2 separate regions of the Homo sapiens genome follow, and region 1 is linked to region 2. Evidence: fine-mapped expression QTL. A gene starts in region 2. The other region holds a variant in brackets. All regions are shown on one strand. Distances are from middle to middle. Region 1 overlaps TBC1D14 (TBC1 domain family member 14). Region 2 holds the start of TBC1D14 (TBC1 domain family member 14).

What was found.
Region 1: its variant is fine-mapped to the expression of TBC1D14 in whole blood (INTERVAL, PIP above 0.99).

What each region holds. Positions count from the first base shown.
Region 1 is chr4:6,986,923-6,989,907 of GRCh38, forward strand. The region is part of intron 3 of TBC1D14 (TBC1 domain family member 14); the gene reads left to right. Among named protein-coding and RNA genes, the nearest start is that of CFAP184, 55 kb to the right of the region's middle. RefSeq lists enhancers at 1-549, 655-704 and a silencer at 145-554. The variant G/A (reference allele first, on the strand shown) is at 1,145.
Region 2 is chr4:6,908,640-6,911,139 of GRCh38, forward strand. TBC1D14 (TBC1 domain family member 14) reads left to right here and starts at 1,187. Exons shown (of 14, transcript NM_020773.3): 1 at 1,187-1,312. RefSeq lists a silencer at 554-1,613 and an enhancer at 1,854-1,923.

The DNA.
Region 1 (2,985 bases), 79 kb after region 2:
CCAGAGCTCACTAGTGCGACTATTTTTGTGCAATTTCTTTTGGCAACACGTTTCTCAGCTCTCGGGTGATCTTTAAGGCAGAAGCTGGCTCTCCGCCTGTCGGCGCGCGTCCCCGGTGTTTACGGCCGGTGGGGCCGTACCACGGGGACGCCCCAGCCCCGCCCCTTGTGCCCGCCCCTCGCCGCTCATCAGCCCCGCCCCCTTGGGAGTCTCCAGCCAGGCCTGACGCGCCGAGCCGGCAGCGCGGATCGCCTCGCTGTGTCTGCGCGCGATTGAGCGGCCTGCCGCCCCGCCCCGCCCCGCGAGTCTGAGGAGCCGCCGCGTCCGCCCGCCCGCCCGCGGTCCGGGAGGGAGGGAGGGAGGCCGGCCCTCCGCTCGCTGGGCATGGAGCCTCCGGCCGCGCGCCTCTAAGGCCCCGGCGTTCATGGTGAGTCGGGGTGCGGGCCGGTGCCTCTCCCTGCGCCCCAGGCCTGCCCGGTCCCGTGGGCCTGTCCTGTCCTGGGCCTGCCAGCCCTGCGGCCCCGCGCAGGTGGAGGGTGCGAGTGTGCATGTGTGCGGTTGTGCGGGTGTGCGAGCATCACGTGTATCTGTCCTCAACAGCCGAAGCTTGCTGTGCATGCTGCTGATGCGCTCTCCTCCCTGGTACTCTTTGTGTCTGTGTTTCCACGTATTTTCTTCTGGTTCACGTTTACTAGGACGACGAGAGACAGCGTGAGCGAGCACGTCCTTTGAGTCCTCCTTACCCTGTTTTCAGAGCCGGGCCAGGCCCAGCAGCCCCCTTAGAGGTCAGAAGGGCCTCGCCTGCGATCCGATGAGCCTTTGTATGGAGATGAGACTGCGCTCCGAGCTCTAGAGCCCAATGAGGTGGTCAGGTTGCAACAGCAACCGGGCGTGTTAAAACCTAGTTCCTTTGAATATGTTTCATTCACCAGCCCGCATATTAACTTTTGATGCTCTGGGAGGAATATGACTATTAGAAAAGGACTCCTGAGAGTGCTTCCCAGAATGCCAACATTCCCAGTAACTTAGAGAACGCTTTCCAGGAGGGGACTGCAGCTTGTTAAAGAACCCAGGCCAGAGGAACCACTCAGATGTTCTCAGTGGCTTTACTTACTGTGAGGTCAGGCTTCAGGGGTTAGCCGGG[G/A]CTGCCTTTTGGAAGGTGGGACCTTTCTAAGACCTGTGCAGGCCATTCTTCCCCCTCAAAATGGCAAAACAGCCCCTCCCAGATGCTAAACTGGGCTCCCCCCTCCAAGACAATTGCTTTTACAAATGGCCAAGTGTGAGACCAGCCGCGGTGTTGCGGACACTTTCAGTTTCGTGCCCTTTTCCACAAGCAACCCTCTTAGAGTGGAATGTTGTGAAGAGTAATTTCATAGTATATAGTGACAGTCATACTCCTATCATTTCTGGGCACCTGCTTTGGCTCTGCAGCTTATGCTGGTTCTCATTTAATCTTCAAGTGTAACAGATGAGGAAACAGGCTTGTGGATGGAGGAGGAGCTCAAGGTCATTCTGCTGGTGGTGCTGGCTCAGACCAGGCCTGCCGCTGTCCCCCAGCGCTTCCCTGGGTCCTCAGCCTGTGCAGATGTGGTGGCCGTGCTGTCACAGCATTAGTTCAAGTCAGTCTTTTGATAGGTACCACTCGGATGGCCAGCCTGCCTTGGCAGCTTTATTCCAGGCGCGCTCCCAAATCCTCAGGTTATTTTCACTGGTGAATCTTGATACTGCAGACAGCGGGGTCGGAGATTTAAGCACAGGATTTGACTGATGACCCTTTCCTCTTCTAGGTAAAATAGATTTCCAGGGAGCCAGAGGCTCCTTCCTGGAAGTCAGGGGGCTTCCAGTAGCAGGTTATTGACATCATTGGCTGTTTTGTAGTGTTCCTCCAGTTCATAAGTAGCATTGATGACCTTTCTTGTCTTTCTACCAGGAGTACTTTCTTTTTTCTTTCTTTCTTTCTTTCTTTTTTTTTTTTTTTTTTTTTTTGAGACAGGGTCTTGTCCTGTTGCCCTGGTGCGGTTATGGCTTACTGCAACCTTGAACTCCTGGGCTCAAGTGATCCTTGTCTCAGCCTCTTGAGTAGTTGGGACCACAGGCACAGCACCTCTGTGCCAGGCTTAGGAATACTTCTTCATTGTTTGAGAATCATGATCCTTTCTTTTCGCTCTTAAAACAAATGTGCATTGAAGCAGGCTTTTCCCCCGCTTTTTAAACCAACAAACGTTAAACCTAATTCAGGAGCCTCGTGCCCTTCTTGTCTTTAGCACTGTGCAGATCACACGTGGAATGTAGACCCTGCCCCTGGATGCGTCTGAGGGGCTCCCCATACCTCATAGTCTCTCCTCTGGCTCTCCTCTCTCTCCTGGGGCTTGTCCCAGCACCTCTGGGTAACGTGTTGAGACCTTCAAATCTAGAGCAAAACAACTTTGACTCTGCACCATTCCCGGTTCAAATCCTGGTGCTAGCCTGCTTGTGGGTGTCTCTTGGCCACTGCTTCTGCTGTCAGAGTGCCTCTTCCTCTTGGCCTCTAGCCCACGTCTTACCTGTCTGTCCACTCAGCTGGCCCCTTTGTGAAAGCTTCCCATGTCCCCCTGGCCTCAGGCATCCTGCCCTTCCTCCCACAGTGTGTGGCTCGCCCCTCCTGGCACATCTCACGGTCTCACCTGTGTGGGAGCCTCTGCCTGCATCGTATTGCCCCTGTCGAGTGAGCCCTGCTGGGTTGGAGATTGAGGATCTCCTAAACTGCCAGGCCCGCGTGGTCCCTTCACAAATTAGTTTCCTCTTTTCCACATGGCCCCTTCCCTCTTGCCCTGCATGCTGAGTCTCATGCAGAGCCCTCTGCATGAGACTGGGGCTCTGCTCAGGCACCCTGCCTCCCTGCCTTTTTTCTTCAACCTTAGCTGGGTCATCAGACCACACCCCACAAGTTGGCTGCTAGTGAGGTGCTGCTGCCATGTTGGTATGGTCTCGTCTTTCCCAGCGTGA
Region 2 (2,500 bases):
TCTGGCTCCCAGCGCTGGGTCTCTCCTCTTGCCCTCAAGTCCCCAGAGTCTAACGACAACCCAATAACGTCAAATACCAACTATTTGCCAGGCCCAGGGAAAATAGCAGTAAACAAGATAAGCCCGGCTTTCCTCATGGAACCCACAGCCTAGAAGGGGAATGGAGACCCACTGCCCGTCAACAGGGGCTCCTCACATACTCTCTACCAGCTCATGGAGGGCTCTGGGGCAGGGAACCTGGCTTCTGCCCCTCTCAGCTACTGACCCACCCGGGTCCTTGGGCGGAGGGCTTCATCTCTGAGCCCGTTTCCCGCTTTGTACAATGGCTCTGATCATAGATCCCGTCTCTGGAGTTTGTGCAATGTTGAGGCCAAATATGCAGATAACGCCAGGCCAGTGGCTTCCAAACCCGCGTGCACATTACACAGCTTCCCAAACTGATGATGCTTCCATCTCATCTTCAGAGACTGTGACTTAATCGGCCTGGGCTTCAGAATATTAAAAGCTCCGCAGGCAATACTAAAGTGCAGACCAGTTTGGGAACTACAGCGCCAGGCACCGTGTCACAGCGCGATAAGAGAGAACGTTCGGAAAAGCCCTTTATAGATTAAGAGACTGAGGCTGGCTGGGAGGACGCCACGGCGCCGCTCCCAAGACCACCGCGGCGGGGCCTGAGCTCCGGTGTCACGCAAAGCTTCCCTTCCGCGGCGGGGCCCGGGCCGTCTCCCGCACACCGGCCGGGGCAGGGGAGCCCCATCGATGCGCTCCGCCGCTCGGCTCCCTACGCCTGAGCCCTGCCCGCTCGAGCCCCTTCCCCCTCCCGGCCGCTTCCCACTTCCAAGATGGCTGCGGGTGGAGCCGACCAGGTAAGGGGCCCCCTGTCGGATGTCCGTGGGGGCCCTGCGGGCACAAAGGCCCGCTCAAGGCAGCTCCTCGCCACTCCGGTTGGTTCTCCGGCAAAAAAAAAGGGCCGGCGACGCCGCTCCGGAGGCCCGCGGCGGGCGGCCCCCGGAAGAGGGACAGCCGGGCGAGCGCCGAGCTCCAGACGCGGCGGCACGGGCGGAAGAACGGGCGCGGGCCGGCAGGGGGCGGGGCGCAAGTGCGTGGGGGCGTGCCCAGGGGGCGGGCGAGGGGGCGGGGCGAAGCGAGGGTGCGCGCCGCTGTTCGCCGCGGGCTGCTCGCGCGCACCTGCGGGTCGGACCCGCTGCCTACCGCGTGCCCGGCGTCCTCGTCGCGCGAGTTGCCGGTCCCGCGGGGCCTGGGCTGCGGGCCCACGGGTCCCGGGGATGGCGTCGGAGCCGCGCTAACTCCGGTACTGAGAGCCTCCCGCGAGGGCCGGGCCGCGGGCCGCGAGGGAGGGCAGGGCGCGCGGGGCCGCCACCTGCTGCAGCGCCGGCCGAGGCGGGGAGCGGCCGGGGCGAGGCAGGTCGCCGGGCGCGGGTCCTGCTGGGTGTCCCTCGCCGCGCGGCCGCGGCTCCTGCACGCCAGGGCAGCGCGTGCGTGGCGCCCGGGGTGCCGTTACGGGGCCTCCGGGGCGGGGGCGACTCTCGGGACTCGGCGGCCCTCGCGGAGGCGCGCGCTGTGTCCCGCTCCTTTACGGAACTTGACGAAAAGTTTTCCTACTCCGACGCGAGGCTCCCGGCCTGAGAAGAGGCGCCTCGGTGCGCCAGACCCCGACCCCGGAGCCCCCTTCCACCTCGGACCCTCAGTCCCCAGGCAGCGGACCCTCCTCCTTGGAGCCCCTGACCCCGCTTTCATCTCTGACCCCTCTACCCCTGGAGCCCCTGACCCGCGAAACCCCCTTTCATCTCGGAGCCCTGACCTCCTTGGACCTCCACCCACGCGAACCGTCTGTCCCTGGGCTAGGGAATCTCTCTGCCTCCGCCTTGGAGCCTCCCATTACCGGGCCGCGAAGACCCTGGCCCGGGGACTGTCTCGGGGCCGGGGTAGCTGCCTTGAGGAGTAAGTCCGGGGACTCCTGGTCTCCCTCCCGCCAGGAGTCTCTCTAGGCTGTGGGTTGCGGTCCTGATGGGAACAGCTGGTCAGGAGGATAGGAGAATGACCCTGTGGACTCCAGAGCCAGCCTCTGCGAGCCCCGGGGTGACCGCGCCTGACCAGGCCACGTGAAGTCGTTTCTGTCCTAAAGTTGCATAGGACGCCGTTTTCTCTAGCGTGGAATTGGAAGCTTTGCTTGGGAAGGTTTTATAGGCACCGGTGCGTTTTGCCCCTACTGGAGGTCCCTGGGCATCACCTTGGTTATTTCACGCACTGAGGCTAGATGAGGAGGGTAGTCGTGGTGGTGTCTTGGGGACAAAATGCTCACTGTCTTGTCCCCAGTATTGTAGGATGTTGGCACCTAGTTGCTGTCTTGCCTAGCTTTTATAGCGGTGGGTTGCCTGTTGGAAACTGGTGGTTGCTTTGTCTGGACCGGGCTAGTCCTTACAGCAGTCTTAGAACACTTCCTGTTGCCCAGTTTATCTGGCCAGTACCAACCCATATC